Linked DNA regions of Homo sapiens: regions 1, 2, 3 and 5 are each linked to region 4. Evidence: fine-mapped QTL for protein levels in blood plasma. A gene starts in region 4. Each other region holds a variant in brackets. All regions are shown on one strand. Distances are between the middles of the regions. Region 1 overlaps COL9A1 (collagen type IX alpha 1 chain). Region 2 overlaps SMAP1 (small ArfGAP 1). Region 3 overlaps ADGRB3 (adhesion G protein-coupled receptor B3). Region 4 holds the start of COL9A1 (collagen type IX alpha 1 chain). Region 5 overlaps RIMS1 (regulating synaptic membrane exocytosis 1).

What was found. PIP is the posterior inclusion probability: the model's chance that the variant is causal. The UK Biobank Pharma Proteomics Project read protein levels with antibody pairs (Olink). The fine-mapping took linkage between variants from a reference panel, not from the people measured, so its PIPs are less certain.
Region 1: its variant is fine-mapped to the plasma level of the COL9A1 protein (UK Biobank, PIP above 0.99).
Region 2: its variant is fine-mapped to the plasma level of the COL9A1 protein (UK Biobank, PIP above 0.99).
Region 3: its variant is fine-mapped to the plasma level of the COL9A1 protein (UK Biobank, PIP above 0.99).
Region 5: its variant is fine-mapped to the plasma level of the COL9A1 protein (UK Biobank, PIP above 0.99).

The regions. Positions count from the first base shown.
Region 1 is chr6:70,273,437-70,280,136 of GRCh38, reverse strand. COL9A1 (collagen type IX alpha 1 chain) reads left to right here. Exons shown (of 38, transcript NM_001851.6): 11 at 5,365-5,418; 12 at 6,055-6,090. Among named protein-coding and RNA genes, the nearest start is that of COL9A1, 26 kb to the left of the region's middle. The variant T/C (reference allele first, on the strand shown) is at 2,714.
Region 2 is chr6:70,798,472-70,805,171 of GRCh38, reverse strand. SMAP1 (small ArfGAP 1) reads right to left here. Exons shown (of 11, transcript NM_001044305.3): 6 at 6,435-6,515. Among named protein-coding and RNA genes, the nearest start is that of SMAP1, 130 kb to the right of the region's middle. The variant GAT/T (reference allele first, on the strand shown) is at 3,298.
Region 3 is chr6:68,881,226-68,886,225 of GRCh38, reverse strand. All of the region lies in intron 3 of ADGRB3 (adhesion G protein-coupled receptor B3), which reads right to left. Among named protein-coding and RNA genes, the nearest start is that of ADGRB3, 250 kb to the right of the region's middle. The variant C/T (reference allele first, on the strand shown) is at 1,978.
Region 4 is chr6:70,299,327-70,306,026 of GRCh38, reverse strand. It overlaps COL9A1 (collagen type IX alpha 1 chain), which reads left to right and starts at 2,943. Exons shown (of 38, transcript NM_001851.6): 1 at 2,943-3,116; 2 at 3,953-4,026; 3 at 5,641-5,718; 4 at 5,852-5,984. The coding sequence starts at 3,103.
Region 5 is chr6:72,198,378-72,205,077 of GRCh38, reverse strand. The region is part of intron 6 of RIMS1 (regulating synaptic membrane exocytosis 1); the gene reads right to left. Among named protein-coding and RNA genes, the nearest start is that of RIMS1, 320 kb to the right of the region's middle. The variant C/T (reference allele first, on the strand shown) is at 3,103.

The DNA of each region.
Region 1 (6,700 bases), 26 kb after region 4:
AAATGCTGACTTATATGGTAAACCTAACACTAAATAATACTTCTTCAGAGTAAAATGACTTCAGGATTCTCAGCTTCTCCTCTTTCCATGCATTCTAACAATATGTAATAATGACCCACTACAGACCAGTCCTTGATTTTGTCCCTGGAATATGAAGTGAAGTAAGAAATGGCGTCTGTTCTTAGCATACCATGGTGCATCACTCAAGTTACTCTTCAAGTTACCACTTTATGTGTTTTCCAAAAACTAAAGACTTTTCTAAATGAAAGAAAGCACTCGAAAACCTATAATTATGATTTCCAAGAATTTTTGACTACAGTTTAAGACATATCCTTCATTTTGAAAGAAAAATAAATAACTGGATTTTTACTGTTATTAAGGTGTGCTTTCTTTGTCGGGATTCCCATAATGAATGTGTTTGTTTATACTGTGTCTATACTATTTAGCGTTTTTGTATGTGTATGTGTTTTTTTTTTTTTTTTTTTTTTGAGACGAAGTTTCGCTCTTGTTGCCCAGGCTGGAGTGCAATGGCACGATCTCGGCTCACTGCAACCTCTGCCTCCCGGGTTCAAGCGATTCTCCTGCCTCAGCCTCCAGCTTCCCGAGTAGCTGGGATTACAGGTGCCCTCCACCATGCCCTGCTAAGTTTTGTATTTTTAGTAGAGATGGGGTTTCACCCATAGTATTTTAGGAAATAGATCTTGGTTTACATTTCAAAGCCCCTAGTTTGAACTTTCTGTGTATGCAAATTAGCAGTACAGGAGGCACCTAAGGACTAATATTTAGATAGTAAAAACTGAATCTCAAACAAGCGTTTGTATTAATGTAATATGAACTGAAATAATATAACTTGTTGGCAATCAAACTCTTTGGAACATCTATAATTAATCGAAATTGTCATACCATAATAAAAAGAGTCTGACAAATTCAAGGCTACTGAACAAACTGGTAGCCTAATGTAGCTTGAATTTATTTCTATATTCCTTTGAAATTTCAATCAGCCTTTAGTTTTGGATGAAAAGAAAATTTCTGACTAAATTAAAAAAATTATTTTGGTAAATAAAATATTTATTTTGTATTTCAAAAATTTATTTTGGTATTTGAAGCGTAAATGGGTCATCTGAATCCTTGTCTTGCTATTAATTAAACTGCAATATAATGTCAGACAGAAAGCTGGACTTATCTGTCCCCCAATTTAATAGTGCTTTTGTAGCTTACTCAACAAATTCTTCTCTTTACCTTATACCATGGTGTCATAAAGACAATCCTTGGTTTTGCTTATAAAGTAATTTCCCCACTCTAACAGAAACTTTGGATAAACAAATGAAAGTGCTTTGAAATTTTTAGAAGTACAACATAGAAAGCAATTTCAAGTAAATTTTTCTTTGTCTATATTTGCAGACCCACAGTGCAGCATAAACCAGATTTCAAATATTAAAAGACATAAAAGAATAAGCTGCCTTAAATTATTGAACTTTGACCTCAAGGAAAAAATGATGAGCACATTTAGTCTGCTGAGACAGGAGAGGAAAGCAAAAGAGAAAGAGAGGAAAGGGGAGAAAAAAGGAAATCCCTGTATCTGCCAGTATTTTAGGCATTTTCTAGATCTTGGGGAAAAATCAACTATACTATTTGCATTTACACAGAACTTTTTCCTCAAGCACTGCCACAAACATTTCTTTTAACCAACAATAACCTGGAAAGTAGATTAGTCTAATATTACTTTCCATAAATAAGGAAACAATAATTATGAAGACAAGTGGTTTCCTCAGAGAGCTATTTAGTAGCTAAGATAACAAAATAGTCCAGATTTCTTGATTTTTAGACTCCCCAGGCAATTCTGCCTCATGCGAATACAAGTGACGATCTTAATAGATGAGAGAGAATAGCGAGAACAGAGAGAAAAAGTGATAGTGAATTTTTAGTACCTAAGTCACCGATCAAGAAGAATGATATGGATAATAACAGCCATTTGTAATAGATATTTTATAATTACTTATAAATATTGGTTTGTTTTATATTCCCTGACTTTTGAATTTAAGCCACATGAGGCATCTGGAACTGTAAAGTTTTCTTATTCCACTCTTTGACTGATTTGACATTAAAAAAATCTTTTATTCTAAATTGAGAATGGATATCTTTGAGAATAATGAAATGCAGTAACTGGGTCAGAATTTGCTGTTTGTTTGTCCTTGGCCATAGGGGAGCTAAGTAAGTAGGAGAGCTTCAACAGTCCTTTCTTGGTAGGTGAACCTGAGTGTGCTGGTAGGACCTTAAACCTCGAATCATTTCGTCTTCTGCTCTTTGGGTCATTACAAGGCTTATTTTTTGATAATGTTAAAAAATGGTTAATTGGATGATGGTTGAAAGAATCAGAAAGGAACCCTGTTCAGTGTTCATTATCCTATGTTGAATGGATTTTTGGCAGAAAATGTAAATGAGTCATAGCAGTCATGCTTGTAGAAGTAAGCCTTGAGTCCTACCAGCTGAGCTGTCAGAATACTGGAAGGAAATCTCCATTGAGGACTGGTTTTCTCTGCCAAACAGTAACATGAAGTTCAGAACACAGTCAGCTTCAATGTTATAATGTATAGAAGTTTGTCTGTATGAATATTCATATGAAGGCACTTTTTTCTGCTCTGGTAATGTTTTCTTCTTTTATTTCTTTGAAATAAGAATTAGGAGGTCTTACTGCAAACTGGATTTTGAAAAT[T/C]ATGTATGTATTATGTGTGTGGTCTGTATATTTCAACTCAAATCTGCCCTTTTTTCAGGTTAAGTTGATTTTTTTTTTTTGGCTTATGGACATGTAAAATTAGATAAGACAGAACTTGGTCCTAACCTTAGGACAACTGTGCTGTTCTCAGCAATTATATTAATAGAGATATTTTTATATGTACTATTTGTTGTGACATGCTCAGAGAGACCTTTAAAAACAGTATTTTATTCTTTCTTATAACACCCATATGAGATAAGCAGAAGAGGAATTAGAATAAAGTATAAGAATTATAGCTAAACTGTGATAATTTTTACAGGCAGAGGTTAGGTGCTATGTATTTTCTGAATGTATACAACTATTATCTGTGGCAGATGCTTTATAACTAGAATTGTGAGTTATTAAGAAATTATTCTAAAAGATCAGTGTAGGTGCAAATATTCAGGCATTGAAGAAATGTGATGAGGATAAGAAATACAGTGCTGTGGTTAATACCTAGATTTGGTTTGTTTGTTTGTAGGACCTTTTCTCAATGAGGAACAGCGTCTAGAACACTGTGCAGTTAGGGACCTTGCCCATGATTCCACAGCTGCTAAGTAGTAGGATCAGGATTTGAGCTGAATATAAAGATGTTGTGGAGGAACAAGTGTAATATCCTGCCACCTGGAAGGCCTCCTTAAACTTATTGTAGGCAGTAATCACATCTTGAGTGGTTAGATGCCAGGACAACATGTTAGGACTGTAATGGACATATGACTCTTGTCCTCATGGAGCTTACGGTTTTCTGCATAGTTATTTCATAACAGGTGTTACTGTAACATCTGACACCAGAATCCATTTTCAACTTAGTTCAAAGAACTTTCCAGTGATTGACATAATTTAGCATGTCTTATGGAGGATATTTTTAATATGAAGTAACCGAAAAACAGCTTCCAGGTTATCCAACTATTTACTTGGTTCTGCTTTATAGTTACTGTCCTCCAATCTTGTCAGTTATTCCAGTCACAGGTTGAAGAGTGTTAGTTGACTGTGTGTATGAAAATTGAACAGAATTGGTCTTGGAGGGTTTATGCATTAAGTGAGAATTAGAGGATCAGTTAGTTAAATATGCCCAGAGGTTTATAAAATTTACATGCCATATGTGCATCCAGAGAGTGCTCCTGGATGTATAGTTTGTTTGTGAAATGCCAAAGCAAACATTTCATTACCATAGGTGCTTAGCAACTAATCATGTTGAGGTTTGTTCCCAAATTACGGTGTTGTAATTAGACTAGGGCTATTGAAAATCAAAGGCAGTCTGTCAAAAGTTCTTTTGTGTGTGTTTAATATTTTTCTTCTTTGGTAAATTTCCAGTAATTAACATTTCAACTCATTTTTTTCTATTTGATTCACTCTGTGACATTGTTAGGAAAATTAATTAAGGTAGAGAAATGTAAAAATGGTGGCCACTGAACTAGTTTTCTATATGAATTATGTGAAGGAATTTTATGGATGTTTATTCAGACCATGACAGACTAAATATGAATTTTGGTGATCCATTTTTAAGTAGGGCTTTCATATTTTTCAAGAGATCCCTCTGTCAATATTGTTTGGGTCTTCTTCAAAATCTTGATAATAGAAAGGGTTTATAAGATACTTATATAGGCATGTATGTATATGTACACACATATATATCATATTTATCTTTAGGAAGGTATACTTTCAAGATTACATTGTAAATGACAGCATCTGAAAGTGTCAAAGAGCAAAGAAAAAAATTAAAAATAGAAATGTATCTTTACCAAATATGGAAATTCTTGTATATATGTGATATTATCATTCTTTAATACGTGTTTTATATTGAGGATGATGATAAAGTAAGTAGTAGTAGGGAAAATGAGAATGTTTAGAATATGTATTTAATAACTGCTTTAGTATTAAATATGATAATTATAAATGTGGTTTATAATAATAGGCTTAAATTTTACATACCGAGTGGCATACATGAACATATATACTTAATCACAGCTATTTTTACTAAGAAAAATAATGTAGAAACATGCATGCTTTCAAATGTTTCTACTTTAAGAATTAATATTCTTTGATAAGCAATTGTCATTGCTAGAAGATGGCTAGGGGGCTGTTAGTGGCTATAAGGCAATAATGAGATTGTTTGTGTTTAATTCTTATTGAGGAAATATTTTATTGACTTCCAAGACATTGTTGTCATGTAGAAAGAGATTATTGTCCTGTAGAGAGATACATAGTATTTTTGTTTCATAAATGAAGTAAAGGAGGTAAATAAACCTGAGTAAATGGCAGAACCAAGACCCACCAGTCTTAGCTATTACAACATTGTAATTGCTATGTTGCATTTTTTTCCAAAGCAGAGACAAAAAACACTGAATTATTGAACCCTGTGATAAACAATGCAGTTAGCAGGAAGTTAGGAGTATGATACAACTTATCAAGAAGAAATAATCACAACAGGCAGATCTTCTGTTAATCTTTACTTTTGAGTAAGACTATAGTAAGGTATTTCTTTATAAATATTTGCATCATACTTATGTAACCATCCTGTAGACAATTAATAAATAAAATGAAAGTTTTCTACTTAGTGGTTTGCCTAAGGATGTTATGATAGTTCTAACATCATTGTCTTGCTCTATTAGGGATTAACAGGACCTGATGGATCCCCTGGCTCCATTGGGTCAAAGGGACAAAAAGTAAGTTAGCCATCTGGCATTAATTGCTAGTACGAAAATGCTGAAGTATAATTTTATTGCAGTGTTTGCAAGCCAACTAACATTAAGTTATGAAGTATCTAAAATGCACTCGTTCAACTAAAATTGTGTTTAAAAACACCATGATGTGGAATACTATGCAGCCATAAAAAGGAACAAGATCATGTCCTTTGCAGGGACGTGGATGGAGCTGGAAGCCATTATTTTCAGCAAACTAACGCAGGAACAGAAAACCAAATACTGCATGTTCTCACTTATAAGTGGGAGCTGAATAAAAAGAACACATGGACACATGAAGGGGAACAACACACACAGGGGCCTGTCAGAAAATAGGGGGTGGGAGGAGGGAGAGCATCAGGAAGAATAGCTAGTGGATGCCAGGCTTAATAGCTGGGTGATGGGATGATCTGTGCAGCAAACTACCATGGAACATGTTTACCTATGTAACAAACCTGCACATCCTGCACATGTACCCCTGAACTTAAAATAAAAGTTGGAAATTTAAAAAAAAAAAACACCATAATGGGGTGTTTTAATGCTTTCAATATTTATGCAGTTTTCACATTTACATATTCATGATATGAAAGGTCAGTACAATGAAACTATTTTTATTTTTAGGGAGAACCTGGTGTGCCTGGATCGCGTGGATTTCCAGTAAGTAAATGTAAAGCTACAGAATTGAAAATTTCCTATCTTTAGGTAAAATTCTGCCATTGTGAAATCTTTTTATTTATTTATTTATTTATTTATTTATTTATTATTATACTTTAAGTTTTAGGGTACATGTGCAGTTTTCTGCATAATATACATGAGAAATAAGTTGATGACATCTGGTATGGTAAGCATTTCTACTATGAGTGGAAAAATTTTAGAGAAGTTTGAATGTACAGTAGAAAATATATATTCTATTTGCAGGTGGTATTTCCCAGCAGACAATTCCCTCTTTACCTGCCATGATAGAAAACACTTCTTGCATAACAACAGCATATCTAAGTATTCAATGTTTAGACCATGGTGTCACACCACATTCTTCACAACTGGTTTTATCTCTAATGAAATATCGACTAATCAGATATTATCACTTGCCTGATTCCTTGGCTAGTCTTTTTCTGCATTTGCACAATATGGCAGGTGTGTGTTATTTGTATATATGAGGACCAGGTTCTTAGGCTGCTTTTCCTATCTATTTTGCTCTTTGTTCCACTTTTACTCTTGTCATTAATCTGTATTTTTTCTTCTTTTTTCCTATTTGTGCTATTTTCTT
Region 2 (6,700 bases), 500 kb before region 4:
AAACTATATGAAAAGACCAAATCTACGTCTGATTGGTGTACCTGAAAGTGATGGGGAGAATGAAACCAAGTTGGAAAACACTCTTCAGGATATTATCCAGGAGAACGTACCCAACCTAGCAAGACAGGCCAACATTCAAATTCAGGAAAAACACAGAACACCACAAAGATACTCTTCAAGAAGAGCAACCCAAGACACATAATTGTCATATTCACCAAGGCTGAAATGAAAAAAAAAAAAAGTGTTAAGGACAGTCAGAGAGAAAGGTCAGGTTACCCACAAAGGGAAGTCCATCAGACTAACAGCAGATCTCTCAGCAGAAACACTATAGGCCAGAAGAGAGTGGGGGTCAATATACAACATTCTTAAAGAAAAGAATTTTCAACCCAGAATTTCATATCCAGCCAAACTAAGCTTCATAAGTGAAGGAGAAATAAAATACTTTACAGACAAGCAAATGCTGAGAGATTTTGTCACCACCAGGCCTGCCTTACAAGAGCTCCTGAAGGAAGCACTAAACATGGAAAGGAACAACTGGTACCAGCCAATGCAAAAACAGGCCAAATTGGAAAGACCATCGATGCTATGAAGAAACTGCATCAATTAAAGGTCAAAATAACCAGCGAACATCATAATGACAGGATCTCATTCACACATAACAATATTAAACTTAAACGTAAATGGGCTAAATGCCCCAATTAAAAGACACAGACTGGCAAACTGGATAGAGTCAAAACCCATCACCATCAGCGTGCTGTATTCAGGAGACCCATCTCACCTGCAGAGACACACATAGGCTCAAAATAAAGGGATGGAGGAAGACCTACCAGGCAAATGGAAAGTTAAAAAAAAAAAAAAACAGGGGTTGCAATCCTAGTCTCTGATAAAACAGACTTCAAACGAACAAAGATCAAAAGAGACAAAGAAAGCCATTACATAACGGTAAAGGGATCAATTCAATAAGAGCTAACTATCCTAAATATATATGCACCCAATACAGGAGCACCCAGATTCATAAAGCAAGTCCTTAGAGACCTACAAAGAGACTTAGGCTCTCACAAAACAATAATGGGAGACTTTAACACCCCACTGTCAATGTCAGACAGATCAACGAGACAGAAGGTTAACAAAGATATCCAGGACTTGAACTCATCTCTGCACCAAGTGGACCTAATAAGACATCTACAGAACTCTCCACCCCAAATCAACAGAATATACATTCTTCTCAGCACATCACACTTATTCTAAAATTGACACATAATTGGAAGTAAAACACTCCTCAGCAAACGTAAAAGAACAGAAATCACAACAAACTGTCTCTCAGGACACAGTACAATCAAATTAGGACTCAGGATTAAGAAACTCATTCAAAACTGCACATCTACATGGAAACTGAACAACCTGCTCCTGAATGACTACTGAGTAAAGAAATGAAGGCAGAAATAACGATGTTCTTTGAAACCAATGAGAACAAAGATAGAACGTACCAGAATATCTGGGACACATTTAAAGCAGTGTGTAGAGGGAAATTTATAGCACTAAATGCCCACAAGAGAAAGTAGGAAAGGTCTAAAATTGACACCCTAACATCACAATTAAAAGAACCACAGAAGCAAGAGCAAACAAATTCAAAAGCTAGTAGAAGGCAAGAAATAACTAAGATCAGAGCAGAACTGAAGGAAATAGAGACACAAAAAAACCTTCAAAAAAATCAATGAATCCAGGAGTGGTTTTTTGAAAAGATCAACAAAATAGACTGCTAGCAAGACTAATAAAGAAGAAAAGAGAAAAGAATCAAATAGACGCAATAAAAAATGATAAAGGGGTATCACCACTGATCCCACAGAAATACAAACTACCATCAGAGAATACGACAAACACCTCTACGCAAATAAACTAGAAAATCTAGAAAATGATAAATTGCTGGACACATACACCCTCCCAAGACTAAACCAGGAATAAGTTGAATCTCTGAATAGACCAATAACAGACTCTGAAATTGAGGCAATAATAGCCTACCAACCAAAAAAAGTCCAGGACCAGACAGACTCACAGCCAAATTCTAACAGAGGTACAACGAGGAGCTAGTACCATTCCTTCTGAAACTATTCCAATCAATAGAAAAAGAGGGAATCCTCCCTAACTCATTTTATGAGGCCAGAATCATCCTGATACTAAAGCCTGGCAGAGACACAACAAAAAAAGAGAATTTTAGACCAATATCCCTGATGAACATCGATGCGAAAATCCTCAATAAAATACTGGCAAACCGAATCCAGCAGCACATCGAAAAGCTTATCCACCACGATCAAGTGGGCTTCATCCCTGGGATGCAAGGCTGGTTCAACATACGCAAATCGATAAACGTGATCCATCACATAAACAGAACCAAAGACAAAAACCACATGATTATCTCAATAGATGCAGAAAAGGCCTTCAACAAAATTCAACAGCCCTTCATGCTAAAAACTCTCAATAAACTAGATATTGATGAAACATATCTCAAAATAATAAGAGCTATTTATGACAAACCCACAGCCAATATCATACTGAATGGGCAAAAACTGGAAGCATTTCCTTTGAAAACCGGAACAAGACAAGGATGCCCTCTCTCACCACTCCTATTCAACAGTGTTGGAAGTTCTGGCCAGAGCAATCAGGCAACAGAAAAAAATAAAGGGTACTCAATTAGGAAAAGAGGAAGTCAAATTCTCCCTGTTTGCAGATGACATGATTATATATCCAGAAAACCCCATCGTCTCAGCCTAAAATCTCCTTAAGCTGATAAGCAACTTCAGCAAAGTTTCAGGATACAAAATCAATGTGTAAAAATCACAAGCATTCCAATACAACAATGACAGAGAGCCAAATCATGAGTGAATTCCCATTCACAACTGCTACAAAGAGAATAAAATACCTAGGAATCCAACTTACAAGGGATGTAAAGGACCTCGTCAAGGAGAACTACAAACCACTGCTCAATGAAATAAAAGAGGACACAAACAAATGGAAGAACATTCCATGCTCATAGATACGAAGAATTAATATCGTGAAAATGGCCATACTGCCCAAGGTAATTTATAGATTTAATGCCATCTTCATCAAGCTACCAATGACTTTCTTCACAGAATTGGAAAAAACTACTTTAAAGTTCATATGGAACCAAAAAAGAGCCCGCATTGCCAAGTCAATCCTAAGCAAAAAGAACAAAGCTGGAGACATCACGCTACCTGACTTCAAACTATACTACAAGGCTACAGTAACCAAAACAGCATGTTGCTGGTACCAAAACAGAGA[GAT/T]AGACCAATGGAACAGAACAGAAGCCTCAGAAATAACACCACACATCTACAACCATCTGATCTTTGACAAACTTGACAAAAACAAGAAATGGAGAAACGATTCCCTATTTAATAAATGGTGCTGGGAAAACTGGCTAGCCATATGTAGAAAGCTGAAACTGGATCCCCTTCTTACACTTCATATGCAAATTAATTCAAGATGGATTAAATATTTAAATGTAAGACCTAAAACCATAAAAACTCTAGAAGAAAACCTAGGCAATACCATTCAGGACACAGGCATGGGCAAGGACTTCATGATTAAAACACCAAAAGCAATGGCAACAAAAGCCAAAAATGACAAACGGAATCTAATTAAACTAAAAAGCTTCTGCATGGCAAAAGAAACTACCATCAGCATGAACAGGCAACCTAAAGAATGGGAGAAAATTTTTGCAATTTACTCATCTGACAAAGGGCTAATATCCAGAATCTACAAAGAACTTAAACAAACTTACAAGAAAAAAAAACCACATCAAAAAGTGGGCAAAGGATATGAACAGACACTTCTCAAAAGAAGACATTTATGCAGCCAACAGATATATGAAAAAATGCTCACCATCACTGGTCATCAGACAAATGCAAATCAAAACCACGATGAGATACCATCTCACGCCAGGTAGAATCGCGATCATTAAAAAAGTCAGGAAGCAACAGATGTTGGAGAGGATGTGGAGAAACAAGAACACTTTTACACTGTTGGTGGTAGTATAAATTAGTTCAACTATTGTGGAAGACAGTGTGGCAATTCCCCAAGGATCTAGAACTAGAAATACCATTTGACCCAGCCATCCCATTACTGAGTATATACCCAAAGGATTATAAATCATGCTACTATAAAGACACATGCACACTTATGTTTATTGTGGCACTATTCACAATAGCAAAGACTTGGAACCAACCCAAATGTCCATCAATGATAGACTGGATTAAGAAAATGTGGCACATATACACCATGGAATACTACACAGTCATAACAAAAGGACGAGTTCATGTCCTTCACAGGGACATGGATGAAGCTGGAAACCATCATTCTCAGCAAACTATCACAAGGACAGAAAGTCAAACACCACATGTTCTCACTCATAGGTGGGAATTGAACAGTAAGATCACTTGGACACAGGGCAGGGAACATCACACACCAGGGCCTGTCAGGGGGTGGGGGGCTGGGGGAGGGACAGCATTAGGAGATATACCTAATGTAAATGACAAGTTGATGGGTGCAGCAAACCAACATGGCACATGTATACCTGTGTAACAAACCGGCACACTGTGCACATATACCCTAGAACTTAAAGTATAATAATAAAAGAATTAAAATGAAAACAGAAACAAAATTAGACACAATGAAGAAATAAGGTATTTGCAAACACTTAACTGAAAAAGGACTAGTATCTCCCATACATTATGTATATGTGTATAGAGAGCTACAAATCAATGAGGAAAAGCAGGCAATCCAACAGAAAAATAGGCAAAAGACCTGAACCAGGCCTATGAAAAGGAAGATTTTTGTTTTTTATTCCCTTCTGTATTTTTTTTTTAAAGGGTGTCTTGCTGTGTTACCCATGCTGGAGTGCAGTGGCTATTCACAGGTATGATCATAGCACACTGCAGCCTCAAACTCCTGGGTTCAAGTGATCCTCCCACCTCAGCCTCCCAAGTAGCTGGGGACTACAGAGGTGCACCATCACACCCCATTTAAAGTTTCACTTTTTAAAAAACACGTGCCTTATTTTCACATGTATTATTTTCATTTTTTAAATGTAAAATAAATGAAGCTATAGTGAAAAAAAGAAGGCAAAAAAGACATGAAAAGGCACTGGGCCTCATTCTGTAATCAAGGAAATGAACAGTAAAAATTTAATGAGACACCATTACATACTCACCATATTGCAAATGCTAAAATCCCTGACAACACTATGTGTTACATAGAATGTGAAATTACTTTGATGGTAAGAGTACCTTTGGTATACACTTTGGAAAAAAGTTTGACATTATCCAGTAAACTTCAAGATGCACATACTTTATGATGCAGAAATTCCACTACTAAGTCACCCTAAAAACATACAAGCTTAGATTCCATATACAAAAGTTTCAAAGCAGCATTATTTAGAATAGTTAAAACCTGTATATAATCCAAATGTTCAACAGCAGAATGGATCTTCTTTCTTATATACAGTACTTCTATTATGTACTTTAAATGGATGTACTTTGCAGTATCCAATTTATGCCTCAATAAAGTTGATTTTTAAAATTTCAACAACTAAAATCAAGGATGCTCCCTTTACTGACAATTCTCTTAGTATGATTCCATACTCTTATGATGAAATGCATTCAAAGCCAAGCCACCATAAATATTTAACCAATCCCTTTACAAAGTACAACATTCTCACTAGCTGTAGTTCGCCTAATCACATCTATCCTGCATATCACTGCTAAAATAATTTTCAAAAAAACCCTTCTGAATTAGGAGTACCATGTGCTTTAGAATTTGAAGTGCTGCTCACAGCCTTTCCTCCCCCCAAAAGAATAAACATCTACAATTTGAGTTCAATCTACCATTCTGGTGTTATTTTTCACTAGTTTCTATACATAGACAAATCCCTTTCTTCAAATTCACTATTTTTCTAAACATTTTATTTACAATTTTCATACATTCTTCAGGCTGTTCTCTTAAACATGTACCCGTTTTCCACCTTAATCCTACCTATGTTTTAAGAGGTAGCTCAAAGGCTAACCTTAAGCAGAGTCTTTTCTGAAGTCCCTTTCATTTATGTTCTCTTCATTCTCTAAAATTCTAAGTCTTCTAAGTCTGATTGTGTATGAAAGCTAAAAACACCATTCTCTATGTCATTCACAGGAGAATACCTGTCTCCAAGGAACTCAGAGGGTTTATACCCACACATATAGATAACTGATTACAAATAATACAGAGACAAGCTAGAAGGACATGCTGAGCACACAGCATTCACTCAACAATTGCTTGTTGAAAATAATGATTATTTACATATTATAAATATCCAGAAAGTCATTAATATATAAGTATACAAATAAAATGGTAATCCTAATAGATTATTTTTAAAAAAAGAATTTTACCTTTTCAGCTGTAAGTGGTTTTGCCGGCTTTTCTGGCTCCTTTTCTCTCTTTTTCTCTTCCTTTTTTTTTTCCTTTTCTTTCTAAAACACAGCCCAAAGTTTTGATAAGTTTACTTTTTTAAAAAATGGCAATTTTTGACTCATCCTTATTAGTTTGAGTAATCATCTGAAAAAGGTAGAAATATTCAGTAATTACAATATCTACGTGCTACTGAAATATAATAAACAGTAAATTCATATTCTCATTGAGGTTATATGCTGATGAC
Region 3 (5,000 bases), 1.4 Mb after region 4:
CACCAGCTTGCAAGTACAAGCAAGTCTAAATACCAGAATTTGACAACAGTGGAGATACAGGTACTTTCAGCTCCTGGTTCTGAGATTTCCACTGCTAACACTACTATTACTGTAACAAGCAAATTGATTAAATAATCACAAAAACCATTCCTAACGTTTATAGGGCACAAAATTGTTTTCTAGGACTCTTCACTTTTCCTTGAGGGTCTATATCCAAATAATTACCCAATCTTGTCTTTTTGTTTTGTGTTGTTTTATTTTCACTGGACGTTTCAAAAATATTCCTTCCTTCTTTCCATTTTCATATCCATTACATAAGCTATTTATTGCCTTAGTCTAGGATTTTGACTCTAAGCCTCTAAATTTGACCATTTCCTCTTTCAAATCCCTTTGTCAGGTTTTCCCTGGATACGTTTAACATGTCAATTTTATCCTAGTATTTCCCTACTCCAAAGTCTACAGTGGATACCCAGGACCCACAAAGTGTAGTACAATTTCTGAAGGCTAACTGAAATTTTGTATCTTTGATCAATATCTCCCCTTTCTGTATCCAATCCCCTACTCCTGGCTTCTGGTAGCCACCATTGTACTCTACTTCCATGAGTTCAACACTTTAAGAATCTACATACAAGTGAGATCATGCAGCATTTGTCCTTCTGTGCCTCGCCATTTTACTGAGCATGTGATAAATATATACTGTCTATTTCAAAACTACTAAAAGGATTTTAAATGTTTTCACCACAAAGAAACAAGTATGTGTGGTGATAGATTTTCGTCAATTAGTTTGACTTAATCATTCCACAAATGTAAACATATGTTAAAACATCACATTGTACCCCATAAATACATAATATGTTCAATTAATATTATTTAAAATTTTTAATTAAAAAAATTAACCTGGAGAAGGTCGCATTCCATACTCTTTGTAATCAAACTATCTTCTAATCATTTCACCAAATTGTAGGCACTCAAAAACATCTTTCAATTTTCTCCCTCAATAAATATTACTGTTAGTCTTGAAATATCACAAATCCTTCCTTCAGACCATTCAAATTCTCCCAGTTTTATAAGATCCCCAAAAAATGCCCTGACCACTGGGGACCTCTGACCAATCATTTTCTGCACAATTAATTAAGCAATTAAACATGGCAATTTCATACACTTTGCTTATTATAGTTTATTATTGTATTGAACTGTTATTTAAATATTTTATGATTAACTTTTCATATGCTTGTGACTTATCTCTCTACCTATATTACCAACTTCCTAAGATTAGGTACTGGGTTTTATATCAGTGATCTTCAAATTGATGTATGAGTACTTCTAGGAGGTATAGGAAGCCTTTTAAAAAACATTTTCAAGATGCTCAAATTCCACATGTACTGTTGTCTGAAATTATCTCCCAAGAATCTGACCTTTCCAAAAAGGCCAAATTTTTACAAAACACAAAAATGAAGAAAGCCAAACCTCTCACCCATTCAGCATCTTATGTTTTGTGTATTGCGCACAACTCCTCCCCACACCTACCTGTTTTTCTCTATCTCTTTCACTGCCAGATTTTCGTTGTATCTAGGATAAAAGCCCCTACTCTGACCTCAGGCTTCCCATGATGTAGTTTCTGCCCACTGTCTCCAACCTCATCTCAGACCATGTCCTAAACTCTGGGTGATTTCATGTCTCAGGGGTTTTCTGTTAACTTTTTCCTCTGCCTGAAATACTAACTTATGCTTTATTTTTCAACTAATTTTTTCTCACTCCCCGGGTTTCAGCCTAAAGCTCTTACTCTCTGAGAGACATGTTCTCACTCTCAATCCAATTTAGGTCAATCTATTATTTTATCTCCTGACACCCTCCATGATGTCTTTGCAGCGCTTATCACAGTTTCTATTTATTTGTGTAATTATGTAATGTTTGTCTCCCCCAAACCCTGAGCCCATGAGCAAAGGAGCTCTTCACTCTCCTGACACATCCCCGTGC[C/T]TGGCACTGTGCCTTACATGAACGAAGTGCTCATAAAGTACCTACTAAGGAAGTGAAAGAGTATATGTTAAAGCCTATATTGAATCTAAAAGTAAGTCGATTTAAAAAATAAATGAACCTTGGAAATCATGGAAACCAAAGCCATGATCTCATTCGCAAGAGAGAGAAGGAGCTCAGGTGTCACATTTAGTGCCAAACAAAGCACTCTGAATTCTAGTCAAATCATTTTTTAAAATATCTTTTAATTCTGCTTTCTTGTTCACACCATCAAACAAATATCCATTGACAGGACAGCAACCTTGGAAGTACCCTTAAATTATTAAGTTCAAGCCTTATTAATTCCAATTTTAATTAAATTGATGAGATACATATAGTTGTAACTATCTTGCCTCAGTATTTCTGTGTCCAGAATTGGTGGGTTCTTTGTCTCACCGACTTCAAGAATGAAGCCGCAGACCCTGGCGGTGAGTGTTACAGTTCTATAAAGGTGACGTGTCCGGCGTTTGTTCCTTCTCATGTTCAAACATGTTCAGAGTTTCTTCCTTCTGGTGGGTTCGTGGTCTCGCTGGCTTCAGGAGTGAAGGTGCAGACCTTTGCGGTGAGTGTTACAGCTTTTAAGGCAGTGCCTCTGGAGTTGTTCATTCCTCCAGTCCAGAGTTGTTCACTCCTCCCAGTGAGTTCGTGGTCTCGCTGACCTCAAGAGTGAAGCTGCAGACCTTTGTGGTGAGTGTTACAGCTCATAAAGGCAGTACAGACCCAATGAGCGAGAAGCAACAAGATTTATTGCAAAGAGCAAATAAACAAAGCTCCTACAACGTGGAAGGAGACGCAACCTGATTGCCGCAGCTGGTGCTGCAGCCTGCTTTTATTCCCTTATCTGACCCCACCCACATCCTGCTGATTGGCCCATTTTACAGAGAGCTGGTTGGTCCATTTTACAGAGAGCTGATTGGTCCATTTTACAGAGCGCTGATTGGTCCGTTTTGACAGGGTGCTAATTGGTGCATTTACAATCCTCTAGCTAGACAAAAGTTCTCCAAGTCCTCACCAGATTAGACACAGAGCACTGATTGGTGCCTTTACAAACCTTGAGATAGACAGGGTGCTGATTGGTGTATTTACAATCCTTTAGCTAGACCATCCTGGCTAACACAGTGAAACCCTGTCTCTACTAAAAATACAAAAAAATTAGCTGGTAATTGTGGCGGGCACCTGTAGTCCCAGCTACTCCGGAGGCTGAGGCAGGAGAATGGCGTGAACCCAGGAAGCAGAGCTTGCAGTAAGCAGAGATCGCACCACTGCACTCCAGCCTGGGCGACAGACCAAGACTCTGTCTCAAAAAACAAAACAAAACAAAAAAAAAACTAGTAATAGAAGTGGTAGTAAATGGGACTATGTGCTTACCTAGTTGGTCTTCCAGGGAAATAACCATTAAGGGACTCTTTCATATCACATTATTTCAGAAGGGCTTTTTAGGTGTTGTATAAACTGTTTATAATAAAAGTAGGGAAGAGGAGGAAATCTGTACTGCCACAGAGAATACCCTGAAATAATTGGTATCAGTTATGATTGAGGACTTGCATGCCAGGACTTAAGGGAGGAGTCTAGGAGCCACTACAAAAAAGAAAATCATCCCATTCAGTCACCTTCAATTTAGAGAGATAACTATATAGGACATTATCACTGGATAGAATCAGATAATGCAATGTAAAGGAAGCATATAATTCTTTTAAAACCTTTGAGATGATAATTAAAAAAATCAAAACATGATCATTTCATTGTATGCTCAATATGATAAAAGGGAAATCTCTAGCTCTTCAGATAGAGGAACAGTCCTATATTCACATGGAAAATTCCCAACAGGAAATGAGAACTTCAGTATCCTGTGGTTTAAATGTTATACATGAAAGTATAATACTTATTATTTGTATGCAAACTACATACATTACCAATATTGAGTCACTACTTCAAAGTATGTTTTTGAAATACCTTGGGACTCTACAATCTAAATATATTTTTCCTTGTGGTTGTAATAGAGCAATTACTGATAATCTCCATAATTTTCTGTAGAAGTAAGATCCATATTATGTCCCAGGTTTAGAAAAAGCATTAGAGAATATTCATGAAATGAATGGGAATGTAACATTTCTAAATCAAAGTCAAATAACCTTTAAGAGAACATAAAAGCTTGCTAACGGCTCTAGTTTATCAACACCTAGGAGAACAAAATACTGTACAAGGAAGGATTCATAGATTCCACATAAGCAATTAGGAATGGATTATTATAGTCACAGACCTGTGTACATAAAAATCTCGATGTAAGTTGCCTAATGAAATAAAAACTATAATTATGGTAATACTTAAATATGTATCCAATATTTTGTCGACTCTTGTATGGAACAGATGAATATGATCATTGTTTTTACTACTTTAAACTGAAGCACACACATAAATGAAACAAAGGGTGTTTTATTCATTTATTTCAAAAAGCTGATTAAAAGCTAGCCATTGAAAGACAGAGCTACCTTCCAAAACACTAAAGTGTTCCACAGTGAACTGTAATTTCTGAGAGGCTATGATTTCTGGTGTCAGAGACTAAATTCCCATAGCCACTTGTTCCCGACTGACTCTCTTTGGCTTGAATGGTTGGCTTTTATTAGGATTTTTGTCATGACTTATCCCCAAATATCCACACTTACTAAATGCAAAACTACAAGAAGAGAAAGAATGTGTCTTAGTCATCCGTGTACTCGTGAGTACACTGCCTTGCATGCCAATGTATATTCAGGGAATATATACTGAATTGAATATAGTTCAGCTACTCAATATCTACAAACTGGGCATCTACTACATGCCAGCATTGTACTAAATGTGGAAAAAAGGCATATATTGAAGGTGGAAAATCAGATACAAGACTTAATAAATAGGTTGGCATTTGAGAGAGATCACTCTGCAACACACGGAAAATATGAGAAGGAGGCAAGATTTGTATTTTATCAGTCACATAACTGTGGATTTGATGC
Region 4 (6,700 bases):
TGTCGCGTTAGGAAACAAGATTAATAGAAAATGGGAGTGGAGGGAGGAAAAAAAATTTCCTTAAATAATATTGTATATATCTTTGTTCTCTCTGGATCGACTTTCTTTTTTGTTTTTTGTTTTTTCTTTTCTTTTTTTTTTGACATAGGGCCTCACTGTCTTGCCTAGGCTGGAGTGCAGTAGTGCAATCACTGCTCACTACAGCCTCAAGCTCCTTAGGCCCAAGAGATCCTCCTGCCTCAGCCTCCTGAGTAGCTGGGACTGGAGGTGTGCATCACTGTGCCCGGCTAATTTTTGTATTTTTTGTAGAGATGGGGTTTCACCATGATGCCCAGGCTTGTCTCCAATTCCTGAGTGCAAGTCATCCGCCTGCCTTTGTCCTCCCAAAGTGCTGGGACTACAGGCATGAGCCACCCTGCCTGGCCTGGATTTACTTTCTTTCTTTTTATTAGTATTATTATTTTTGAGATGGAGTCTCACTCTGTCACCCAGGCTGGAGTGCGGTGGTGTGATCTCGGCTCACTGCAACTTCCGCCTCCTGGGTTCAAACGATTCTCCTGCCTCAGCCTCCCGAGTAGCTGGGACTACAGGCGCGTGCCACCAGGCCTGGCTAATTTTTGTATTTTAGTAGAGATGGGGTTTCACCATGTTGGCCAGGCTGGTCTCGAACTCCTGACCTCAGGTGATCTACCCACCTTGGCCTCCCAAAGTGCTGGGATTACAGGCGTGAGCCACTGTGCCCAGCCTACTTTCTTTCTTAAAATAGCTCTTGCTTGCTCCTACCATCTTAAATAAAACTGCCAAGCTAGAAAAAAGCCACACCACCTATAAGCAAACCTATTTTTCTCTCTATCCTTTCATTTTTAATTAAAAGGCACCCTCACTTGATTTCAAATTCTACTTGAAGAGGATTCATTACAGTGGGAAGGAGAGGGGCAAATGCGGAATTGAGATCTCTAAAGCAATGAAAGGATTTCCCAAACACTTCATTATAATGAAAAATCCCTCTCTCCTTTCTTACCAGAGTAAGTAATATGAGAGGATCAATCATGCAAATAAATAGCTTCAATGGACAGTCCCTTTGGAAAATGCCTTTTCCCCTGTGAATCTCTGGCTGGCTTACCTCCTGTGACTTCAGGATGTCAGGAAGGTCCCCAGCTGCAGTTTCTCCTCTGAGGTTAATAGACCGCTTCTTTCTCATGAGCCCTGACTGACTTAAACAAATAAGCTAAGATCTGGTCATTTGTAGTTCTGTCACAGAGCCAGGATGGCTGCACTAGGGAATGGGAATTTTGATAGACAGAAGGCAAATGACAGGGACTTGTAGAAAGCCCCAAACAGCATGAGGAAATGGGTGTCCCTCTGGGAAAGAGAGACAGGACTCCAACAGGTGGGCTATGAGTAGAAAATAAAAGGGCAAAAGCATGGATATTAAGTTTGCCTGATTTACATTTCATCAGTGAGCTGGGGGAGGCAGAAACTGAAAGGACTTTTTTGGAAAAGAAATAAACAAATGAAAAATAAGAAGCAACGCTATTGTTTTGTAATTAAATAAAAATTAAATCAATTAGAAAACGAAATTTAAAAATTTCAAGAAGCCAGGTGCAGTGGTGCATGACTATCATCCCAGTTACTCAGGAGGCTGAGGTGGGAGAATCCCCTGAGCCCAGAAGTTCAAGGCTGTAGTGAGCTATGATTATGCCACTGTACTCCAGCTTGGGGGACAGAGCGAGACCTGAGACCCTGTCTCTTAAAAAAAAAAAGTTCACCTAAAAATTACTTTGCTTGTACTGTGATTTTTGAGATCATTGGATCTTCTGACCTTTAGAGTCTTGGTTTTTGGAGTAACCACCCGTGTCCCTCAAGACAAGGCCAGAGGTTGGCCATGCTGAGTGGGTGGTAACGGGGGTGATGTGGGGGCTATAGGGAATTCTCTTTAGGTGCTCAGGTTCTGGAGAGACGGCATGGCATGTGTGGTAGCGATGCTGATAACATGCCTCTCTCTAGGTTTGTGCTCCTTGTAATTTGCTCTCACCTTGTTAACGGAGGATAATATGTTGCTTCTTTCCAGATACAGTGTCCTCTGCTCAACTCTGGTAGTCTCAGAGTTTAAGAATAAACAACAAGTAGGGGGCTTGATGTTACATTTTATCAGGATTTCTATCCATGAGGTAGAGAGAGGGAATGTGTATTTAGTAATAGGCATGGCACTTTGAAAAAGTTACTTCATTTTCTGCTTCCTCAACTTTCTTATTTGGAGAATAAGGGTAACTTCAGTCTTACCTTATAATGTTGTTGTGAGAATTAAATGGCATTAAGCTTTGAGCATTTTCAACAGACGGAGGTGCATAATGAAGCGTTAGCTATGAAGACGATGACAAATAATGATTGTTGGGTGTTAGACCCTCTGCCTTTGATACCTCATTTAATTCTCAAAACCATTGTTTTAATGTAAGCATTTTCAATCTGTTTTACAGTTAGGGCATCTAGTTACAGAAAGGTGAAGTAACTCTCTCAAGGACACACAGCTAGTAAGCTTCAGAATAAACAGGGATTGAAACTTAGGTTGATCGGGCACCAAGGCTCCCACGAGTTTCCACACCTCTGCCTCCCAGTGGGCACATTTTTACTGGAACCTCAGCCCTCTGAAAGCTTCCACTGTATTCCTATAGCAGTTCTGAAAGCTGCCATTGTACTCCTATAGCAGATCTAAAAGCATCTACTGTGTTCCTATAGCACCTTGCCTGGATCTTTCTGGTGAATTTCCCCACATCCTGATTTTATTTTTTTCTTTTCAGCAAACTTTCCCCTGTAAATCCCTCCTTCAGTATAACCTTGTTAGCTTTGAGGACACACCCCTAGGCCTGGGCTCAGAGCGCTGCTTCTCCCCACCCCTTTCCTTTGCTTCAGTTTAAAGTGTCACGAGATGCCTCTGGTTCTCTCCCTTTGCTTTTAGCCCTCACCGGGGGCAGGAGGGACCAAGGCTGGGCCCAGAACACATAGTCCTAGGGTAACAGTGAAGGGGTCGTGAGGGGACAGTGACTCCCTTCCAACCCCTTCTTCATAGGGACTGTTGGCAAACAAAGAAAATCAACTGGGAAAATGAAGACCTGCTGGTAAGACAATAACCCTGGAAAGAGTGGTGGGGAGATGGAGCTGGGGGTCCTCAGAACCAAGGGTCTGTATTTTTGCAGCAGTGGTAAGATGAGAGTAGGTGAGCCTCAAGGTGAGAGACAGAAAGAGAGACGGATGAGAGAGTAAGACAAGAGGGCAAGCGTGAGAAACCGAAGACAGACACAAAAAACCGAAGACAGACAGAGGAAGGGAGAGAAAGTGACGGCCACAGAAAAAGAGAGGAAGGAAATCAAAGGTGAAAGAAACCAGAGACAAAGAAATAGGTACCAAAACAGTGAGATAGGTAGATACCGAGAAGGTGAGATCAATAAAACAACAACGACAGTGGGGTCTGGAAACATGAGTTCCTTACATCTCTCAGTAGGGTTTCAAAGTAAAAATGAAGGCTGGGTGCGGTGGCTTATGCTTGTAATCCCAGCACTTTGGGAGGCCGAGGCGGGCGAATCACGAGGTCAGGAGTTCAAGACCAGACTGACCACCATGGTGAAACCCTGTCTCCACTAAAAATAGAAAAAGTAACTGGGTGTGGTGGCACGTGCCTGTAATCCCAGTTACTCAGGAGGCTGAGGCAGGAGAATCGTTTGAACCCAGGAGGTGGAGGTTGCAAAGAGCCGAGATCGCGCCATTGCACTCCAGCCTGGGTGACAGAGCGAGACTCCGTCTCAAAAAAAAAAAAAAAAAAAAAAAGAAATGAAAAAAAAACTATACTGTGATTTGATCACCTTACATTAATTAGGTTTACTAGGTTTGAAAATATGGAAGTGTTTTCCATCTGCGGGGACTCCTGTTTCAGTCATTTTTCTTCTCTCTTCTTCAGGAAAATTCCAGTTTTCTTCTTTGTGTGCAGTTTCCTGGAACCCTGGGCATCTGCAGCTGTCAAGCGTCGCCCCAGTAAGGGCCATAGTTTCTAGACTTTCAAAGATCACTTATTCCCAGAAATGATCAGGCAGGGCTGTGGCTGACTGAAGACTGAGTGAGGCATTCATAGTCCTTCACACCCTCACTCTTCAATCCAGCTTTGGGGCACAGGGATACATTAGGTTCTGGTTTTCCATGGTCAATGCTGGGTATGGAAAGTAAGTCCTGTCAGTAATCACAGTTGGTAGGAAGGCCAATCTGTGAGCTGCAGTGCCTAGTGCAGTGCCTAGTACAGATGGTGATTGGTAAATGTTGGGTGAATACATGGATGAATGAATAAATAGACTGATGGATGGATGGACCTCAACAATTTGGGGTGAGGAGAGTATAAAGAGCATGTTTGATGTACCATTATGGTTAGGCCCATGCTTTTTTATATTTATATTTTTATTTTTTTGAGATGAAGTCTCACTCTGTCACCTAGGCTGGAATGCAATGACACAATCTCGGCTCACTGCAACCTCCGCCTCCCAGGTTCAAGTGATTCTTCTGCCTCAGCCTCCGAAGTAGCTGGGACTACAGGCATGTGCCAGCATGCCTGGCTAATTTTTTATATTTTTAGTAGAGACGGGCTTTCACCATGTTGGTCAGGCTGGTCTTGAACACCTGACCTCAGGTGATCTACCTGCCTCAGCCTCCCAAAGTGCTGGGATTACAGGCGTGAGCCACAGCGCCGGGCCTATGCTTTGTAACTGAATAATACTTTTTTTGAAGTCTAGAGAGTCTCTGTTGTCAGATGAATCTTAGCAAGGCACTGAGGTTGGATATTTCCAAGAAGCCTTCTGTGGTGGTGAAAAATCTCTCTTCCCTTTGACCTTCCATTTGTGTAAGGAGAACACAATTCCATTCTATGATTTCTTATCAAATTGAGGATTTAATCCTTCTCATGATTATTTTCTTCTTCTTTTTACTCTTCCCAGTTCTAAGATGTTAGGATTAATCTAGTCGGGACTTTTATTTGATCTCTTAGAACGAATTTATGAAATCAAATCCATCCTCTATATTTTATTTAGGATTAGTGAATCTCAAGACTTCCCCAGGCCCCTATATCTGACAAAGATTCCTAAGAACTCTACTCTCCAGAAGCCCCACTGAACTGGACCAAGGTTGGCTCTGGAATCTCACTGGAATCCTAAAATTTGTGGTGTTTAAGGAACATTTTCTAGCCCAAACCACCAGGAATTTTCCAAACAGATTTCTGACCCTGTGCCATTCAGGACACCATTCAGCTTTGGTTTCAAAAGGAACAAATGCCTAACCTCTTCAAAACGAACATTTTCCCAGCCAGATTATTAGAGCAACTTTGTGCCTTGCATCCACCCCTTCCAGGATGAGTTGCAGGTGGACAGATTATAATCGTAGAGGCATGGAGGTAAAGCCAAACACTTTACCTCTAAGCAAGCTGGTATAATATTGAATTTTAAATATTTATTATTATTGATACATCCTGAAATCTTTTTTTTGTGGTCAATTGCTATTTTCTGGTTCTAAATTTTATTATTATTATTATTATTTTATTTTATTTTATTATTATTATACTTTAAGTTAGAGTGGATGAAGTAGAATGACATGCTATCTCTTTTGCAGGATTCCCTGTCAATTCCAATTCTAATGGTGGAAATGAACTCTGTCCAAAGATCAGGATTGGCCAAGATGACTTACCAGGTGAGTAGCAATGTACCCTATTGAAAATGCATGCTTTCTATAAACCTGATTTTTTTTTTTATTTGGGAAAGTTGTGGAAAGAAATAAAACCAATCTCATTTTAGACTTTTCATTTTGTATTCCCATTCTATAGGGTTTGATCTGATCTCTCAGTTCCAGGTAGATAAAGCAGCATCTAGAAGAGCTATCCAGAGAGTAGTGGGATCAGCTACATTGCAGGTGGCTTACAAGTTGGGAAATAATGTAGACTTCAGGATTCCAACTAGGTAATCTATCAAAAATATTTTAATCTAATTATCTGACTCAAATGCATTAAAAATGGATAGCTATCCAATGTTAGAGTTTTCTTATGATCAATGTTTCTTGGATTATAATTGTATTTAAAGATGAAGAAATTTATTTACCTGCCTATCTTCAGTACCTTAATACTGCATTTCATGTTTTCAGTATGTAATTTACTTTCCATTCCAGGAAAAAGCATCACTGAGACTATTATACATTGATTCAGGACATGTTCTTATTACCTTGCTTTCTGTTTTTCTATAATTTGTCTGGTTTTGACTGAAAGGACCCTCTGTGAAAAGTGCCAGAGGGTAAGCATAAATTTAACTAGGAGCCACAGAGTGGTTAGAAGACTCACAATGGTGCTGTTCAAGTGTCCTGGTGCTGAAATGGAGCCACACGTCCACTGCTTGGCTTCTGGCAGACATCAAACCAAAGCAAAACTAAAATAATTATAATAGAAACAATGATAGTAATACTAACGACATCAAATCCTCCACTTCACTGATTTCTTTCTCTGGAACTAAGCCTTTTGCTCTTTATTTAAAACTGAGGTACTTTAGTGTGTAAGTGTTGAGTCCTGTCATCATTATGAATGAATCTCAGCAATTTAGTTTTGATATCACCTAAATACCTTATTTATGATTATGATAATTATTATATGCTTTAGCACACTATAAAAAAACTAGAATTAAAATTC
Region 5 (6,700 bases), 1.9 Mb before region 4:
AGTAATTACTTCTCTGTAATTAGGAGAAGTTTCTGTAATTACACAAGAAACAAAGTAAATAATGTCTTGTCATCCAATGAAAAGGTACTTATTGACCTAAGTAATTTTTCCCAAATGCATGGCCATTAAATCAATAAACTTAACAGATATGCCAAGAATTAGAAGACAAGAAAAGTTACCCTTTTTCAAACCCAATCATCCTCAGCAGTACTTTTATATACATCTTTTCTCCCTATGAAATTATAAAATTTATTAGTTTCTTACTTTCTAATTACTTCTATAAATTAAAAAAGAAACATTCAACAATGTACAACTTAATCCAACAACTATAATTCCATGTATGTAACTATAAACTATCACTTTAGTAACCATAAAACAATATATAAATGTAGAAAGATGATTTCTCCGTTTATGCTTATAATTAATTTCCCTTAGGAAAGCACATGCAAACATTAAGAATAAAATTGGGTATTCAAAGAGAACGATTGAGGAGAAGGCGAAATTTGATTTTAGTTTTAAATCACAGCTAGAGATAGAGGACATTTTAAAAAGGCAGAACACTGCCAAATAATGGAGATGGAAAAGTGTATGGTAAGTGTGAAATACAGGAAATAAATGCTAATCAGTCAGGAAGAACAGAGTTCTAGAGGTGATTGTGTCAAGACACAAGACACTGTGAAGATTGAAGGGCATGGCTGAAGTTTTTTGGATTTCATTCTGTATATAATGATAACCTAATCTACAGGAGTTTCACCACCGCACCGACTGGAATGACAAAGTGTTAGGACAGTTACAATTACTACCTTTGTATGATCCTCAAGACTCTGAGCAATACTTTCCCATTTATTATCTCAAAGTAGACAGGACTTTCAGTTTCTGTTCCAAATATATGCAAAGTCACTCTTCTGTTCCTTAATCCCTCCCTCATTTATGTGCTCCCAAGCACTACAGAGCTATCCCAGGCAGAATTCACACCTGCTAGTCAGTCAGAAAGTGAAGGTTAAGAAGTTCCAAAACATACCTGGATTCATATAACTCTGTATTTTATTCCCCAAACATAAGTTAAATCATTTTGGATACTTTCCCAGTCAAATGTGTCTTCAAATTAATATTCAACTTTTTATTGGAAGCTCATCTTATGATACCAAAAAAAAATTCTCATGGGAGGACTAGCACTTCATAATTTATGAAGGGTCAGGTTTGAGATTTGCCAATAACAATACTCAGGCCCCAACCCATAACACTAAAATCAAAATCTCTGGGCTTGGGACCTGAATACTAGCAGGTTTTTCAAAAATCTCCTCCCTCAAGTGATTGCAACGTGCACTGAACTTATTCAACTACACATTAAAATAAATTTGGGGCACTGCTCCACATTGACTAAACCAGATTAGTTTTTGGTGCTACTCCAGCACATATTTTTAAATGCTCCTCAGATAATTTTAAAAGTACATAAAAATTTTAGGATCACTGATCTAATCCAACCCTCTCCTTCTGTTACCCAAGGTAACCCAGTTCTTGACAGAACTAGGATAACCTGTTCCCTCAACCTGTAACCTCTGGGCTCTTTTCTCTCTACAGGTCTATAAGCTTATTCTTCCTAGAACAGTGTGTATGCTTGTCTTTCCTTCTTCATGCCAGTCTCCCTCACTAGAATGACACATTGGTTCTTTCTGCCCAAAATCTACCCCAGCTCTAATATTAAACGTCGGCATTCAAGCTTCCTTCCTCACTACTGTAAAATATATTATCTATGCATCCTATTTGGTGCCATAGAAATAATATTTATGGGGCCAGGCGCGGTGGCTCATGCCTGTAATCCCAGCACTTTGGGAGGCTGAGGTGGGCGGATCACAGGGTCAGGAGATCGAGACCATCCTGGCTAACACGGTGAAACCCCGCCTCTATTAAAAATACAAAAAATTAGCCAAATGTGGTGGCAGGCACCTGTAATCCCAGCTACTCGGAAGGCTGAAGCAGGAGAATGGCGTGAACCTAGGAGACGGAGCATGCAGTGAGTCGGGATCGCACCACCACACTCCGGCCTGGCGACAGAGGGAGACTCCGTCTCAAAAAATAAAAAATAAAAAAAGAAAGAAAGAATATTTATGGAGTACTTGCTATGTATCAGGTACAAGGCACACAGAGCCATGAATAATCTCATTTAATCTTTACAACTACTCCATGCGGTATGTGCAATTATTATTTCCAGGTTCTAAAACGATTGAACTTGAGACTTAGGGGTTAAGTAACATGTCCTGGGTTATCAGTCTCTGGCTATGCCTAAAACTTATTTATGTCCTCATGATCTGGGATATTAAACCCTCTTCATAAAGCAACTGCTCAATAAGGTTCTTCATGATCATGTTTTTCATAGACAACCATGGAGACAAATGCCAAAATCAGTATTTATCATGTACGTACACAAACATCTACAGGACTTGGTCTCTTTCCTCCTATGAATATTATCATTGAGTTGAATTATGTCCCCCTCCAAACTCATCTGTTGATGTCCTAACCCCTATTACCTCCGACTGTAACTATATTTGGAGACAGAGTCTTTAAAGATGCAATTAAACCAAAATGAGGCCATTAGGGAGGTTCCTAATCCAGTATGACTGGTATCCTTACAAGAAGAGGAAATTTGGACACAACATGCAGAGAGAGAAGATCATGAGAAGATACAGAGAAAAGTCAGTCATCCATAAACCAGGGAGAAAGGCCTGGAACAGATCCTTCCCCAGGTTCCTCCAAAGGAACCAACCCTGCCAACACCCTGATCTCAGACTTCCAGCCTCCAGAACTATGAGAAAATAAATTCCTGTTGTTTAGGACACCCAGTCTGCAGTATCCTGTTATGGTAACCCTTGGAAACTAATACAATTATTATCTCATGTGGTACACAGCAGCCTCAGAAGGGTTTACTGGAATTAAAATTAGATCTGCCCTTTGGGATGAAACATGTGCTTTTAAAAAAGACACAATTGCACAAGTTTAGCTCAGTAGTTAAAACAAGACATACAAAGAAGATGGCTAAATACAATAAACCTAGAATAGCAGTAAGAATCAGAAATGCCCCACGAGGTATGAATAAGTATGATA[C/T]GGAAGGTAGTATCTGGATTTCCAATACAGTAGTTGACATCAGTCAGTATCTAGGGATCCAGCTTCTATCTAACTCCTGGACAGGGACTGGTGACGGCAAGCAAAAGCTTCAGTTCTGAAGACTTGGGCAACAGAATCAGATTTGGTCACAAGATCTAGGGAAATGGATCTAATAACCAAAACAAGGCACAACTCTGGAATGTGGACTCAGGAATATGTTAAAATTTAGATTGTTAGGGTTGAGCCCAGACTGCAGACAGAATAAGTAGAAGGACTGAGTAAATGCTTGTCCTCAGAGGGTACAAGATGAGTTTCAAGCTCTTCCATCTGCATATAATAAAGGGTTTCAAAGGCAAGAAATTCGGCAGATCTCAATACCCATGTTTCCTTCTCTGATCAACAGTGTGTGAAAGGAGAGATTTTTGTTTGCTTCTGAACCCTCTTCCAGGTCTGAGATTTCTGTTATTCTGTTAAATTGAACCAAAATAAGGACAACCTTTTCATTCACTGGATAAAATGGGTCAAAAACACTGCAGTATGATTCTGCATTTTAAAAGGATACCAAAGAACAACTTACTGAGATAAAACAGGTGATACTGAAATCTTCAATATCAAATCTTTTTCTAAATGAACTTTGAAGCGTAAATGTTTCCCCTTAAAATGACCTTTAGTTACACATCTTTTTAAAAGTTCTATATTAAAGTTGTAAGCATATATTACACATAAAATTTGTATGATTATTTTTGAAAATGTAGCCCTGATGTTAATTTAGTTTCTCCTGATTCAAGAATAGAAATTTCTTTCAAATGCAACTAAATGACTAATATTTCTAGCCATGGACTAATTTGGAAGAAATATTATTGGGTATAATCATGTTAGATTTACCAACTTAATTTCTTTCCTTTTTATAGAACTTATGTTTCGTCATAACTCCTGTTTTAGAATCAAGGAGACTTTTTTTGGTCGTTTATATATTAGGCAGAAATTGAAACTGAAAATCCAGCCTCTCACCATGATTTCCAAATTTTTCTTAATGCATATTCTTAGAAATAAGAAATTGGCATGTTAGCTCAGACCACACACACACACACACACACACACACACACACACACACACAATTGTGTCCTTTCAATCTCTTCTCAAGATTTAAATTGCACAGATGATTAAAACGGCTAATGTCCACTCCATATCCACAGTAAGAAGAAATTAGTTCTCAGACTTTCTCTAAGGCATTAAACTGAAGCATCTAATGCCCCAAGTCATATGTCTCCTTTTCGGTAGTTAAGAGGGAGAATTGTTTATCCTTCCCTCATCAATGGCAGACAGTAGTCTCTCTTCTGTTTTATGCCTATTCTCATCTCTATCCTTCATAAGACCAGAAAAAGTCAGGCCAGGTAAAACTGTTGAGCATTAGTGCTAAATGTCAACCTGTCCAATTGTCCAAATGTTTCCCTATGGCAATTTCTTTCCTCTTTTGGAGTAATTAAAGAAGAAACTACAGAAAGCCTTTCATTGAAGGTTAAGAAGTGGAGGTAGAGGTCTCTGAAAGTGTGTTCCTCACCTTGTGTGGGAAAGGGCCCAGGGCAGATGTAGATAAAAGGGAAAAGCACAAAAGAAATCAGGTGGACTCTTTTGAGAGGGCCACTGAGGTCAGGGACTATGCTCTAAGCAATATACTCCCCAAACCTGGTAAGTGCCTGTCATATAGTGGAAGCTCAATGAAAAATTAATATATGAAGAGAAAGGAAAGAGAAACTAGTATAAAAAGAGAACTCAAGGCTTTTACAGTTCCATGTGAACCCACTGCTCTTTGATGTTCTGATTGCTAAAATACCAATTATGGAAGGCCCCAGAAGACACCAAAATTGGTTACTTGCAATTTAATAAAAGAAATATTAGATAGAATTTTTTATTTTCTTATTTTAAAGGATATCAAATTAATGCATGCATATGATAAAAATTAAAATAAATAAGAGCTTCCCATGCATAACTATAGTAATTGATTTCTCCTCATATCCCTTCTTCCCACAGTATCAATTCTACTTCCCAACCTTATTTTTAGATATTTTCTTAGTCGTTCTAATGGAAAACATCCTAATTTTAAAATAATTTGTCTCTATATGTTGACTGCTTTATTTGTAATATTATCTACTGGTTTCTAATTTTAAAATATTACCTATTGTTAAAACTGATTAAAGACAAGATGCTCACTTTATTTACATCATTTTGGTTTCAGAAGCCAATAGTTTTATCTTTCTACAATTCTATATTTAAACATACTTAATCCTCTATTTCTTGTCCTAAAATCTGAACACAATCTTTTAACTCTTCAATATTTTACATAAGACTATTCATATTCCTGCCTATCCCTCCACCTCTGCCCTCTCCAGAGCATTTCAACTCCCATATCTGTCAGTTTTACCTTTATTTTCATGCAGACACAGTATTCATATTCAATTGTGTTGACATTTTTAAGTATTAAATGAAAAAAAGGGTTTATTCTAAAAATTGAAAACCAATAAGCAACTTTTACAATATCATTACATCTAAATACCCTAGAACCAAGAAAATGGCAATAATGTGCAAGGGTTAAATTTCCTTTTCTATAGATGCACTGTCAGGCACTCAGAGAAAAATGTAGTTAAGTTTATGGCCCAATTGGCTGTATCAGTTACTTAAATTACATCATATTTTTTCTTGCTTCACATTTGGACAAGGATTTTTTTAAGTTTATTTTTTATCAATTTTTAATTGCCCCTTTTTATTGTTGAAAGAAGACACAGCCTTTCTTTAACAAGTCTATGATGTCATGTAACTCATTCATTAGTCATTGGATATTTCTTGGAATCCATGACCTTCTTCTTAATACAGACTTTCTTATTGGAGCCTCCTGGAAATGACCTCCAGTTTTAATCTGAACAAACTTCTTTTTGCACATGTCATTCAGGGACTTCCTTGCATTGAATTTCTGGGTTAGTTCTACTATTTCTTGTTTATTATTTGTCTTGACTACATGATTATTATTCAGTTTTCTTGGGTGCATATATCCTTAAATAACATTCTCAGAACGAGAATAAAATGCAGGTTTTCTGAGAACTTTGAAGTTGATAGTTTAGATGAATACAGAATTGCGGTTTCAAAATTACTTTGCTCATAATTGATTCTGTATATTTTTATTAACACATAATATTTATACATAATTATGAGGTACATGTACTATTTTGTTACACCCATAGCATATGTAATGACCAAGTCAGGGTATTTAAGATATCCATTATCTCACGTATTTATTGTTTCTATATGTTGGGAACATTTTAAGTCCTCTCTTCTAGCTATTCTGAAATATGAAATATATTGTTGTTAACTATAGTATACTTACTCTACTATCAAACATTAGATCTTATTCCTTCTATCTAACTGTAAGTTTGTACCCATTGAGCAGCCTCTCTTTTCCATCCCTCTCCCCTCAACACACCCTTCCCCATGTCTGGTAATTATCACTCTACTGTCTACCTCCATGAAATCAATTCTATTAGCTCCCACATATGAGTGAGAGTATATGATGTTTGCTTTCTTTGCCTGACTTATTTCACTTAA